Linked DNA regions of Homo sapiens. The protein of the gene in region 2 purifies or fractionates together with the protein of the main gene of each other region. This does not show direct contact. Each region holds a gene or a part of one and is shown on either strand. Other genes may lie near its edges.

Region 1 (3,647 bases), on a different chromosome or scaffold from region 2:
AGTTGTGGTCCCTACCCTCAAAGAATATCATAAAAAGGCCAGACGTGGTGGCTCACGCCTGTAATCCCAGCACTTTGGGAGGCCAAGGTGTGCGGATCACAAAGTCAGGAGATCGAGACCATCCTGGCTAACAAGGTGAAACCCCGTCTCTACTAAAATTAAAAAAAAAAAAACATAGCCGGGTGTGGTGGCGGACGCCTGTAGTCCCAGCTACACAGGAGGCTGAGGCAGGAGAATGGCGTGAACCCGGGAGGCGGAGCTTGCAGTGAGCCGAGATCACACCACTGCACTCCAGCCTGGGCGAGAGCAAGACTCCGTCTCAAAAAAAAAAAAAAAAAGAATATCATAAAAACATGTGCACAGGTATCTATAAACCTAAATGAAAAAAAGATCACTCAAGGTCATTATTTGAAAATGAAGAAAGCCAAGGCAATGTAAACTTCATAATAATAATACAACAGCAAAGAATGGGAAGTAATCTGCTTGCTGTACTTGCAAATATTCATTACTTGAATAAACTGAAAAAGAAATCTAAAATATGAAAGAATAACTAAATGGAGTCTATGAAATAAAATGGAAAGAATTTTGATAGTTTAAGAAGAAAATAATGGCTGGGCAAGGTAAGCACCTGTAATCTCAGCTACTCAGAAGGCAGAGGTAGGGGGAATCACTTGAGGTCAGAAGTTCAAGACCAGCCTGAGCAACATAGCAAAATGTCTCTAAAAAAAATTTAAAAATTAGCCGGGAGTGGCAGGGCATGCCTGTAGTCCCAGCCACTTGGGAAGCTGAGGCATGAAGATCCTGAGCCCCAGAATTCAAGGCTGTAGTGAGCTATGAATGTGCCTATGAACAGTCACCACACTCCAACGTGAGCAACATAGTGAGACTCCCATCTCTTAAAAAAAAAGAAGAAAATACAAAGGATGAGTTAAGTACTACCTTAAATACTACCTTTTTTAAGTGTAGAAAGTTTAAACGATGAAGTTATCTGACTGAATCTCTTTGCTGATAGAAGAAAACAAGCCATGATAAAAATAGCCAGACATGGCCGTGCGCAGTGGCTCATACCTGTAATCCCAGCATTTTGGGAGGCTGAGGCAGGTGGATCACCTGAGGTCAGGAGTTCAAGACCAGCCTGGCCAACATGATGAAACCTCGTCTCTACTAAAAATACAAAAAAATTAGCCAGGCATGGTGGTGCACACCTACAATCCCAGCTACTCAGGGGGCTAAGGCAGGAGAATCGCTTGAACCCAGGAGGCGGAGGTTGCAGTGAGCTGAGATCGTGCTACTGCACTCCAGCCTGGGTGACAGAGCAAGACTTTATCTCAAAATAAATAAATAAATAAATAAATAAATAAATAAATAATAAATAAATAAATAAATAAATAAAAATAGCCAGACACAGTGGCTCACACCTATAACCCAAGCTACTAGGGGAGGATCGCTTGAGCCTAGGAGTTCAAGGCTGTAGTGAGCTATGATTGCACCAGTGCACTCCTGCCTAGGCAACAGGGCGAGACCCTGTCTCTAAATAAATGAAGATGCTATTTTAAAAATATTTCAAAATAAGAGCTTCTTGCTTATCCACCACATAATAATCGGATACCCTGAGATATCTTATTAAGAAACAAGCGTTTAAGACACAAATTTTTCACATAAAGCCAGCATTTTCTTTCATGTATACTTCCTAATAATAGAAAGTCCATTTTCAAGGCTTTATTGTTCTGTGAATCTTACTATCGCTCCAGAAGACACAATGTCAACAACCCAAAGTAAGAATTTAGTTTAGAATTTGACTTTAGCTACCCTGTGGAAAAAACTAAAAATTACAAAGTCATCAAATTATCTTTAAATAGGTTATGTGTGTGCATGCTATGGAAATAATGTATATGTACATACATACATAAACACAAACACAGGCTTAAGTTGTCTGACAAAATCACAATTTTAATAACAGAGAAAGTTAAGTACTAAAACTGATCTATTTAATGACAAGTTAAGGTCAAAGTAAGCCTTGAAATTTTTGTATCTGAAAACCAATAGTAGCTTTTTCTGAAAGAGATTTTTTTTAACTTTCAAATTCCATCGTGACAAAATAAGTCATGGAACACATCTCTTTACAAACACTACCTGAAAACTTTAACCTAAGAAAAACTAAAACATTAATTCAAAATAATTTTTCAAATAAAGTCTCCTTAAATATGAAAGCACTGCAGTTACCCTGTGTGCCCTAAGACGGTGGCATGGTGCAATGGTCCCCGCCCTTGGACATCTCTTTGGTTGACATTAGCACCATTCTGTAGGAGGAACTCACACGTCACCAAAGAGCCCTTAAAGGAAAAAAGAGGATAACTATAGACAAAAGCAAATAACAAGAAACAACAATACATTTCTTTTTAAAAACAATTGGTTTTCGTTACTCAAATAGCATTTCCATTTCCTTCTCTCCAAAACAAAAAATATCCCTCAGCCAAGGCAGAGAAATTATAAATTATATTATTTTCTTCCCAAGAACTAATTCTAATAGAGATTCATTTGCAGTTTGTGAACTAGCAAAACACATTATATACTTTCATTATCGGAATTCTCTTCCACTGCAAAAAAACTTGAAACAACCGAAGTGGTGCTCAGAAACCACTACTATTAATAGCACAGAGGTTCCTTCTATTTTCTAACCCATCTCTTGAAGCAAAGACAATACTAAAGCCAGTTCAGAACATATTATGATTTTTTTTAAATATTTGATTGCTACTGAAAATGTCATTGTATAAACGCATACCCCTAATACAGCCTGAATAAGTGGTGTCGCTTTGTTTTCCTCTGAATTGGCCCAGTTCACGTCTGCACCATGAGCCAAAGCCTCAGCCATTTTAGGAAGGTTTTTTTCATATGACGCCCTATAAAGCTGAAGTCCTGGATTAAGATGTTTCGAGTCAAGAAACATAGAAGAATCTTGCCTTTCTCCTTCTGAAAAGCAAACACATACACATCAATAAAAATGAGCTCTTGGCAGAAAAAGAAAAAATTATTTAATAGGTAGAGTTTCAGTTTTGCAAGATAAAAAGAGTTCTGTGGATGAATGGCAGTAAAGATAGCACACTAATGGGAATATACTTAATGCCACTAAACTGTACACTTAAAAATGGTTAAGATGGGCCAGGCACGGTGGCTCACGCCTGCAATCCCAGCACTTTGGGAGGCCGAGGGGGGTGGATCACTTGAGGTCAGGAGTTTGAAACTAGCCTGGCCAACATGGTGAAACCTCGTCTTTACTAAAAATACAAAAATTAACCAGGCATGGTAGCGGGCACCTGTAATCCCATCTACCTGGGAGACTGAGGGACGAGAATCACTTGAACCCGGGAGGCAGAGGTTGCAGTGAGCTGAGATTGCACCACTGCACTCCAGCCTGAGCAATAGAGCGAGACTCAGTCTCAAAAAAAAAAAAAAAAAAAAAGTTAAGATGATAAATTTTATGTGCATTTTATTGCAATTTTTAAAAAATAAAGCTATGACATAAGAAACCATTAATCTATCATAATGAGCTTATGGGAGATTTTCACATAGCTATTCCCCAACATTCAACCTTCTTCTTCTATAAAGACAATCACTGATATGCCAGGCCTTTCTGTTCTTGCCAGTAT
Region 2 (3,647 bases):
GTCAGGGTTATTTATGGTATAGTCATAAAAACTGATTAATTATGGCTCCCTTTGGATTACCTGTTTACCTTTTGACATTTTTGGGGCTAAGAGATCTAATTAGCTAAGAAATATTGAAGAACTGATTAAGTGATTATTCTTACCACCACCACTCCTATCATAAGCACTTATAACATTATTTATTCAGAGAAATAAATGTGAACAAACTTCTTCTGTAAAATCCCTTCCCTTCCTAGCATGTGAATCTCTTAGAAGCTATAAAGAATTATATTTCACTACTCCTTAAACAGGAAATAAAATAAAGAATTATGTTAATTATGAGCATATTTTAGAATTCTCATGATTAATAAATATGTCTAACTATATGTGTAACTTACATACCTTTTGAACTGGTAAGTAATTTGTACTCATATGTGACCTCAATTTATACCAACTTATTATTAAATTGATTATGGCAGTTGACAAATTTAAAGTTAAAATATTTTAAGAAATCATAAAACTAAATTTCTCAGGATAGTTTGATTTTAAAAGTCACTGTATTTTTAAAAAATTTATGCAAAATGGATATTCTTCCATCTCAATACAAAATATAACAGAAAAAAATAAAATAATAGAATAAATGCTAATGGTAACTTTAAAATCTGGGATAATCTGGTGAATGCTTCTTGAACCTATCTGCCAGATAGCAGATCATTTTCAAAAGGGATATTTTATTTTCTCATTCCCATACAGACAGACAAAACAAATATAGTAGTTTGCAAAGATAATACAAAAAACAAATACATAAGGAAGCAGAAGTGATAAGCAACACACAAACTTCATTGCTCTTACTGATTGGTTCAGTTAAAAATAGAAAGAAATTTCATAATCAGATTTCTGTAGTGTGAGTACATAGTATAGTTAAGTATTCTGTAACTTAAAAGTTATACCAAATACTTCATCAGGATTATTAGTGAGCTGTTCTTTTCTAGCTCATCCCTTTCCAGGTCTTCTAAAGTAAACAACTTAAAATGAGAAGATTTTAGAGTCCTAAAATGTAGTTGGTGACTCTGAGTGTACTTGTATAAGGATTTTAAAATCCAACTATTTTAACACTGAAAACAAGAGAAAATACCTAGAAAAACTGTAGATAATTTAAAAAGTAGTACTATTAAAGAGAGCTATGCTTCCAGACAAAAATTCAAGTTAAAACTTGTTCTTCCTGCTTCTGTCCCGCAGCTGTCCATCAAAAGCAGCTTTCTCCCTGCGGTCTATCAAATATTTCCCTCACAAATCAATTTTACACATGATCAGCCCATACCCCTACTGAGCTGAACCTCCCTGTTAATTAAGTGAAGAAATTACCATATATATTATATTAATGCAAACATCATTCAGCTAGTAATTCACGGCTGATCTGGATAATGGAAAGGTTGAACACCCATTAACCCAAGCCAACAAAATGGGTTGGCTGAGAAATTCTAGCAGGTCTCATGTGACTTTTCCCTCTAACTGCAGCTCTGCGGTATCTGCTATTGTAATAATTAAAATCCTCCCAGTAGATCAATACTGGAATCTCTTTATGGGAAGTGCCCTGATGGAAATGTCTCAAGGAAACTGGGGCTGTGGAACTCTGAAAAATTCATTTTTTTTTATCTGACAATTATCACCACACTGCAGACTAATTCAACAGTGCACCCCTCTCACTCTGCTTTGAATGCACTGGAGATTGACATCTTAAAAAACCTAACATCTCATTTTAACAAATAAAGGCACTATTTCCACATACAGTTTGGAATTATCAGCAATCATGAAACCACACAAAAAATTAATATACATTAAGCACTTCATCTTCTGATGGCTTCCTCTGAGTTTCAGTTATCGCTGCCTTCTCCTCATTTCCTTTCTTTGTATCTTCCTGTATTGATCTCTGCCTTTTCATCTCTTAAAAAAAAAAGAGGAAAGACATGTAAAATTATTGTAAAGCTTGATATTTGTGTATTGAAATGTGAATTTACATTACCAGATTATATACATATATACTATATATATATGCTATATATATATACTATATATATATACTATATATAGATATCTATATATAGTTAAACCATAACATGGAAAAACATTTTAAAAAGTGTTCTACCTGGTCTATTCTCAATATATTGGCTGAAAGACTGAAGTTGAGTTTTTCTGACTGTAGAATCTTTGCTGAACACAACAGGATTTCTAAAACGTTCTGTTGTTTTTTGTAATCGTTCAGTCCGGAGATCTTCTGTGCCACTCTAAACGTAAAACAACACATGGTAAGAGAGTCCTGATCTCATAAACATAAAATTACACATTAGTAAGGCAATTTTTACTGATTTAAGATAACACTGATTTAGAAACTTTTTGCAAGAAAAGGATTTTAAAGCACTTTAAAGAGCTCAACTGCAAGTTCTGTTGCCTGTAATCACAAACTTTGGGACACATGGTTTAACTCTTGATAACTTTGATACGAATGTGTCTTCCACCAGTGATACATATCATTTAAAAGCCATGTTGCCTCCTATTTCCCCCACTATTCTGTGTCATCAGTTTGTACAGCCCCACAGACTTGTATGACAACAAGAACTAGTTTCTAATTTTATGCCCATTGAGATAAACCACTAATGCTGGATGAAGGCTAAAAGGTAGGATTATAATACTACCCTACTGAACTGCATTTCATCAGCTATAACTTTCCAAAGCCAGATTTGTAAGTAAGCCCTTTACAGCTAAGGAAACTACAATTATCTTTTCCGGAGCTTCCTATGTTAATACTGGTAACAAATTCAAATGGTTCTATCAACAAGAAATATCCCAGAAGACTGAACCACTGCAGTGTGTGGAAGCTGCAGATACCGAGGTGCTGTGTACCAAACAAATATTTCATTTTATACCTAATCTTTTATTATTTTTATTAAGTGTTTTGAAAGTAAATAGGGAAAGGCTAAGATGCATGACTAATAGCTAAGCCTGCTGAATGCTGAAACTGGTTATCAAAAGCTACCAAGACTTTGCCCTTCCTCTGCATTGAGACAATCAGTAATGAGGGAGCCCTCCAATGGCCTATTCTCTAGCCTCAAGGAGGCCTGGGATACAGAATCCTCAGGGGAAGGTAACAGTTTATTCTTTTCCACAAACACAGAATGCCTCATTTATAAATGTGTAAACTGCATTTTATTAAAAAAAATTAAAACCCAAGTCAACGCTGAAAGCTTCAAGAGAACAGATGGACTCTATATGTTCTTTATAAACACCATTTTCAAAATCTTAACTAAAAGGAATCATACAAAGGCAAGCTGTTTAAAGCACACCTTTTGTTGGAATAACTTTAAAGACTACTATATAAGAGTGTTTTGGAAAGCAAAACCAATTTTATCTATACAGATAAACCATAATAATGAAAATAACACTATTTTATTTTTTTAAAGTTATCTAATGAATTTATCATTAATATCATGCTTATAATATCCTAGCCATATAGTTATGATAGCAACAGTTTTGGCTTTTATTCTATTTTTTTAAAGAAAAATAGAGTTCTACTGTTATATAACTATCCAATAGTCTAATACTCAAGTCTTTACCAAAATAAACAAACACAGCTAAATTTTTTTAGGCCTGGCAACATGCTAAAATATCAG
Region 3 (4,228 bases), on a different chromosome or scaffold from region 2:
TCAGGCCAGACTGGAGATTGAGCGCCTGTTGTATACGGGCCCTGGGCTAACCCTCCCCCCATCACACAACTCAACAGCAACGCCCAAGCCACAACTTCTCTGGACCTCAGGTTCCCTACCTGCAAAACAGTGTGGGTAACAGTACCCCCCCAACCCATGGCACTCAAGGAGGGATGAATCGAGTTCAGGAGGTTAAGGTGGGCACCAACAGGTGTCAGAGAAGGGGGCACCAGGGCGGTCCCATTTCATGGTTGAGGACAACTGAGGCTCAGGGATCCTCTGCTTGGAGACATGGCGGTGGGATTTGAACCCAGGTCTGGGTGACCACAGAGCCTCCCACGCAGACCCCACAATCTCTGCAGGGCAACAGGGGTCTGGAGTTTCCCGGTCCTCTGGGATCCCGAGTGGGCCAGATGTCTCGGACGGCAACACACTCACCCAGCCTAGAGTGCCTTCCACCCAGGGCCAGTCCTAATGGCCTGGGTGAAGAACAGAGACTCCTGGGGCCTGGGTCCCACCCGAGCCACCCCCTAGCCCAGGCCACACCTCCACCCGCCCAGGCCGCCAATAAAACAGGCCGGGCAGAACCCAACAGGCCTGGAGTGACACCCCAGAGGGAAGGCACATCATGGGGACAGCGGAGGGGGCAAAGCTCCACCCTCCCGAGAGGCAGCTGGGCCCAGGAGGCCACCCCCAACCCTTACCCTGGCAAAGGAGCCCCCAAGACTCATACACAGCTCCTGGGCAGACAAGGCCTGGAGAGACGAGGAGGCAGGGACCCCTGGGACTCAGATCCCTCCTGTGACCCGACCCCACCCAGGTCAGTGTTGCACAGCAGACACCCCCAAGCCTCCCCAGTCACCGGACAAGAGAGTCCTGTGGCCCCTCTGCCCTAGACACCCTTTACCCAGACCCCTGAGTCTTTCGGCCCCATGGGTGAAAAGGCAGTGGGGGGCAGGTGGGTGGCCCCTGGGAGAAAGCGAGGAGGGCATGTTCCAAAATAGCCTCTGTTCCATCTGTTGTGGGGACAGAGGTCCCAGGTCACAAAGACCTCAGGGCCATAGCGCTGGGTTGTGACCAGGAGAGCCTGGCGGTCCGGAGGCCACCAGGGCGGCACCCAGCCCCCCATCCCCAGGCTGGAGGTCACCCCCCACCCACCCAACCCAAGAAAGTGCTGAGGGGGCATTTCTGACTCAGGGTCTGGTCGGGTCTGTCGCCCCTCCCCCACCTGGGACAACTTCAAGACAAGGCCCCCCCCACGGAAGAGCTCCAAGCAAAGCCCCCCCTCTTTGGGGGCACAGAAGGAAGAGGCCAAAGGAAGCCACTCCCCCCACCAGCCCGCTCCGAGCCCTGCTGGGTTTAATGACCCTTCCGGGTCGCCGGGTGGGGGAGGGGAGCAGGACAGACCTCCACGTTGGGGCCGGTGGAGGGGGCAGGTGGGGATCCCAGATTCCCCCCTAGGTCAGGGCTGGGTGCCCCCCCATCGCCGCCATAACCCTAAACTAGCTACGCCCACCCCCTTCAGACCCCTCCCCCCAAGAGCCCTTTGTCCTCGACCCCCACCCCCATTTTATGACAGCCCCAAGGGAGAGGCTGGGACGGGGCGCTGGGTGGTCGTTGGACCAGGCAGGGGTGGGGGGCGGAGGGATCCTGGGCCACACCCTCCTCCCCCCAGGCCTCCGGAGAGAGGTCACCCGCTCGGCGCGGGCCTTGCAAAACATGGTTATTTAAAGAGTTGTGCAAGGCCCCGGGCCCGCGGGTGGCGAAAGGGGCCCCTCACTCCACGAAGGGAAGAGGAGGGGGAGGGGCGGGGCAGAAAGCTGGGGAGGGGGCTAAGAAAGTCCTGGGTTGGGGGGGCCTGGAGGAAGTGAGAAAAAAACTCAAGAAGGAGAAGAAATAAGAAGACAGAAACCCTGGTCCGGATTTCAAAGGCTTCTTGGAAAGCGGCCGATTTGCATGGGGGGGGGAACCCCTCCAGCCCGAGCGCCTAAAAACGGAAGATAATTGAACCCGCCGCCCGGGGCCGGCGCCGAGCGTTGGAGTTGACAAACGCGCGCTCCCAGCGCTTCCTGCGCCCGCTTTTGTGTCTGGGGGGCCCTGAAACGGGTCAGGGGGCTCTTCCTGGGTATCCCCGCCGAGGAACCGGGCGCCCGGGCCCAACCCACCCCGGCGCCCGGGGGCCGCGGTGTCTCCCCCGGGGGCCCCTCTCTGCGCTGGGGCGGACACTTTATAAATAAACCAGCCCGGCTGGGGAGGCTCGCCGGGAACTACCCTCCCTCCTCTCTGGGCTCCCGAATAAATCCCTGATTTCGGGGAGAAAGAATAAAAATGAAATAAAATATCGGGGTGCAGCCCCCCGCGCGCGCGCAGAGACCATTTCCTTCCGCTGGGGAGGGGGGGGCGCGCACTCGCGACCCCCGATCGCCCCTGCTCGCCCCTGAGCGATTGATCCAGTGGGGAGTGAAGTCTCCAAGCGGGGTGCAGAGAAAACTCCCCGAACCCCAGCCCGCCAGGGCCGCCTTCCCAGTCCGGGACCCCCACCAACATCTCCGCCCAACTTTGGGGACCCCCTTCTTTGGCTTCCAGGACGCACTGCGCCCACCCCGGCACCGGAACCCGCGCTGGGAACGGCCAGCGCGCTCCCCAGCCTTACCGCGCAGGGCGGCTCGTAGTGGGGCGCGCGCCCCGCGCCTGGGGTCGGCCTGCCCGGGCCCGCCTGGCTTCCAGCCGCCGGTGCGCGCCGCTGGCTCCCGGCCCCCGACCCACGGGGCTGTGCCGCGCGCCGACTCACCGAGCCGCCAGCCGCGTCCGCGTCTACACCCCTCCGCCCGATTGGTAAGAGGCGCCCCGCGCGCGGCCGGCCCCCGCCCCGCCCCTCCCCCACCCCCAGACAAATCACCAGGGGACGAGTCGCTCTCGGATGCAAATACCTGGCCGGTGATTCAGCGCCGCGGCCCGGGCGCGGGAGGGCCTCGCCAGGGCTCCCCACTTTTCCCCGCACGCCCCCTCGCCCCCCTCCCGCGGTCTGACGACGCGCAACCAGCCCGGGGGCGCTGGGGAGCCGGGCAGAGTGGACGGAAATTTTCAGGTCGCGGCCCCTTTAAAGGATAATAAATAATAAACGGGAAGGGGAACAGCGCCGCGGGAGGCCCCGCCCCCGGCCTAGGGACGGTGGGCAAAGTGCGCGACGCGGCCCCAAGCGCAGAGGGTGCCGGGGGCAGGGGCTGGGGCGGGAGCGCCCCGGGGGAAGAAGAGGGGACTGACTGGGGCTCCGCCTGGGCGGGCTGGCCGGAGGCATCGGAGCCAGATCCGGGACCAAGTCTCTTCCCTTCTTACGGAGCACCTACGCTGGGCCTCGTGGACTCGGAGTTTCACCTTCGCCCCTTAGACGGAGAGACCCTGAGAGAGTGACTTCACTCTCCGGAGCCGCCGTTTCCAAGTCTGAGAAATGGGCTTGAAAGACCCGGTGCAGAGCTGGGCGGGCGGCGTCGGAGGGAGGGAACCAGGGTCCCGCCGGCCTCCCTCTGGGGAGGGACGGGCTGCAGACGGGGGCTCGGCGCGGGCGTGGGGAGGTGCGCGCTGGGACCCGGAGCCCCTTTGTGAAACCAGGACGACCCTGCCCGGCCCGGCTGTCACCAGCGTCGGGAGCTCGGCTGCCCACCACCCCCCCGTGAAGGTGGTGATGACTTACACGGTCTGAGCGGTCGCTTGCCCAACCACGTGCCCCGCGCCTCCCTCCAGGGAGGTCCCTGCACGTCTCCAGCCCTCACTCCTCTCTGTAGTTGGCAACCTTCTTGTCGCCACTGCGCAGAGCAGGAAACTGAGGCACCGAGCGGGGTGCAAGGAAGGCGGTCGGGAGGGGGACGCGTGCTCTGCAGGGAGCTGTGTGCGCGGGAAGCGACCCCAGGGGGCTAAGCGCAGAGGCCCAGGCTCCAGCCCGGACGTGAGCCCCAGGGGAGCCTGGAGGGCGGGCAGGGGCCACCCCGGGGGACCCTCACTTGTGGAGGGTCTCTGGCGGGCTCGGGTCCCCGGTCCTGAGTGTTGGGGGCGGGGTTGTAGTCGTCTCCCTCCCCTTTCCCTAGACTAGCACACGGCATTGCAACTTTCTCTCTGTCCTTCCACCTAGTTGCACCTCCTCCCTCCACAAAACTGCAACCGGGGCCGGCGCGGTGGCTCACGCCTGTCATCTTAACACCTTGGGAGGCGGAGGTGGGCGGATCATCAGAGG

The links.
Region 1: the proteins of EHBP1 (region 2) and ACAP2 purify together in Homo sapiens (affinity purification with mass spectrometry, with the first as the bait; one large-scale study listed by BioGRID). This does not show direct contact.
Region 3: the proteins of EHBP1 (region 2) and ARID3A purify together in Homo sapiens (affinity purification with mass spectrometry; one large-scale study listed by BioGRID and IntAct). This does not show direct contact.

What each region holds. Positions count from the first base shown.
Region 1 is NC_000003.12:195,289,483-195,293,129, forward strand, and holds part of ACAP2 (arf-GAP with coiled-coil, ANK repeat and PH domain-containing protein 2), read right to left. Parts: intron 2,971-3,647; coding exon 2,783-2,970; intron 2,334-2,782; coding exon 2,224-2,333; intron 1-2,223. UniProt on the Homo sapiens protein: GTPase-activating protein (GAP) for ADP ribosylation factor 6 (ARF6). Doesn't show GAP activity for RAB35.
Region 2 is NC_000002.12:62,992,147-62,995,793, reverse strand, and holds part of EHBP1 (EH domain-binding protein 1), read right to left. Parts: intron 2,265-3,647; coding exon 2,126-2,264; intron 1,924-2,125; coding exon 1,817-1,923; intron 1-1,816. UniProt on the Homo sapiens protein: May play a role in actin reorganization. Links clathrin-mediated endocytosis to the actin cytoskeleton. May act as Rab effector protein and play a role in vesicle trafficking.
Region 3 is NC_000019.10:924,623-928,850, reverse strand, and holds the start of ARID3A (AT-rich interactive domain-containing protein 3A), read right to left. Parts: upstream 2,817-4,228; 5' UTR 2,792-2,816; exon of another isoform or gene 2,654-2,791; intron 1-2,653. UniProt on the Homo sapiens protein: Transcription factor which may be involved in the control of cell cycle progression by the RB1/E2F1 pathway and in B-cell differentiation.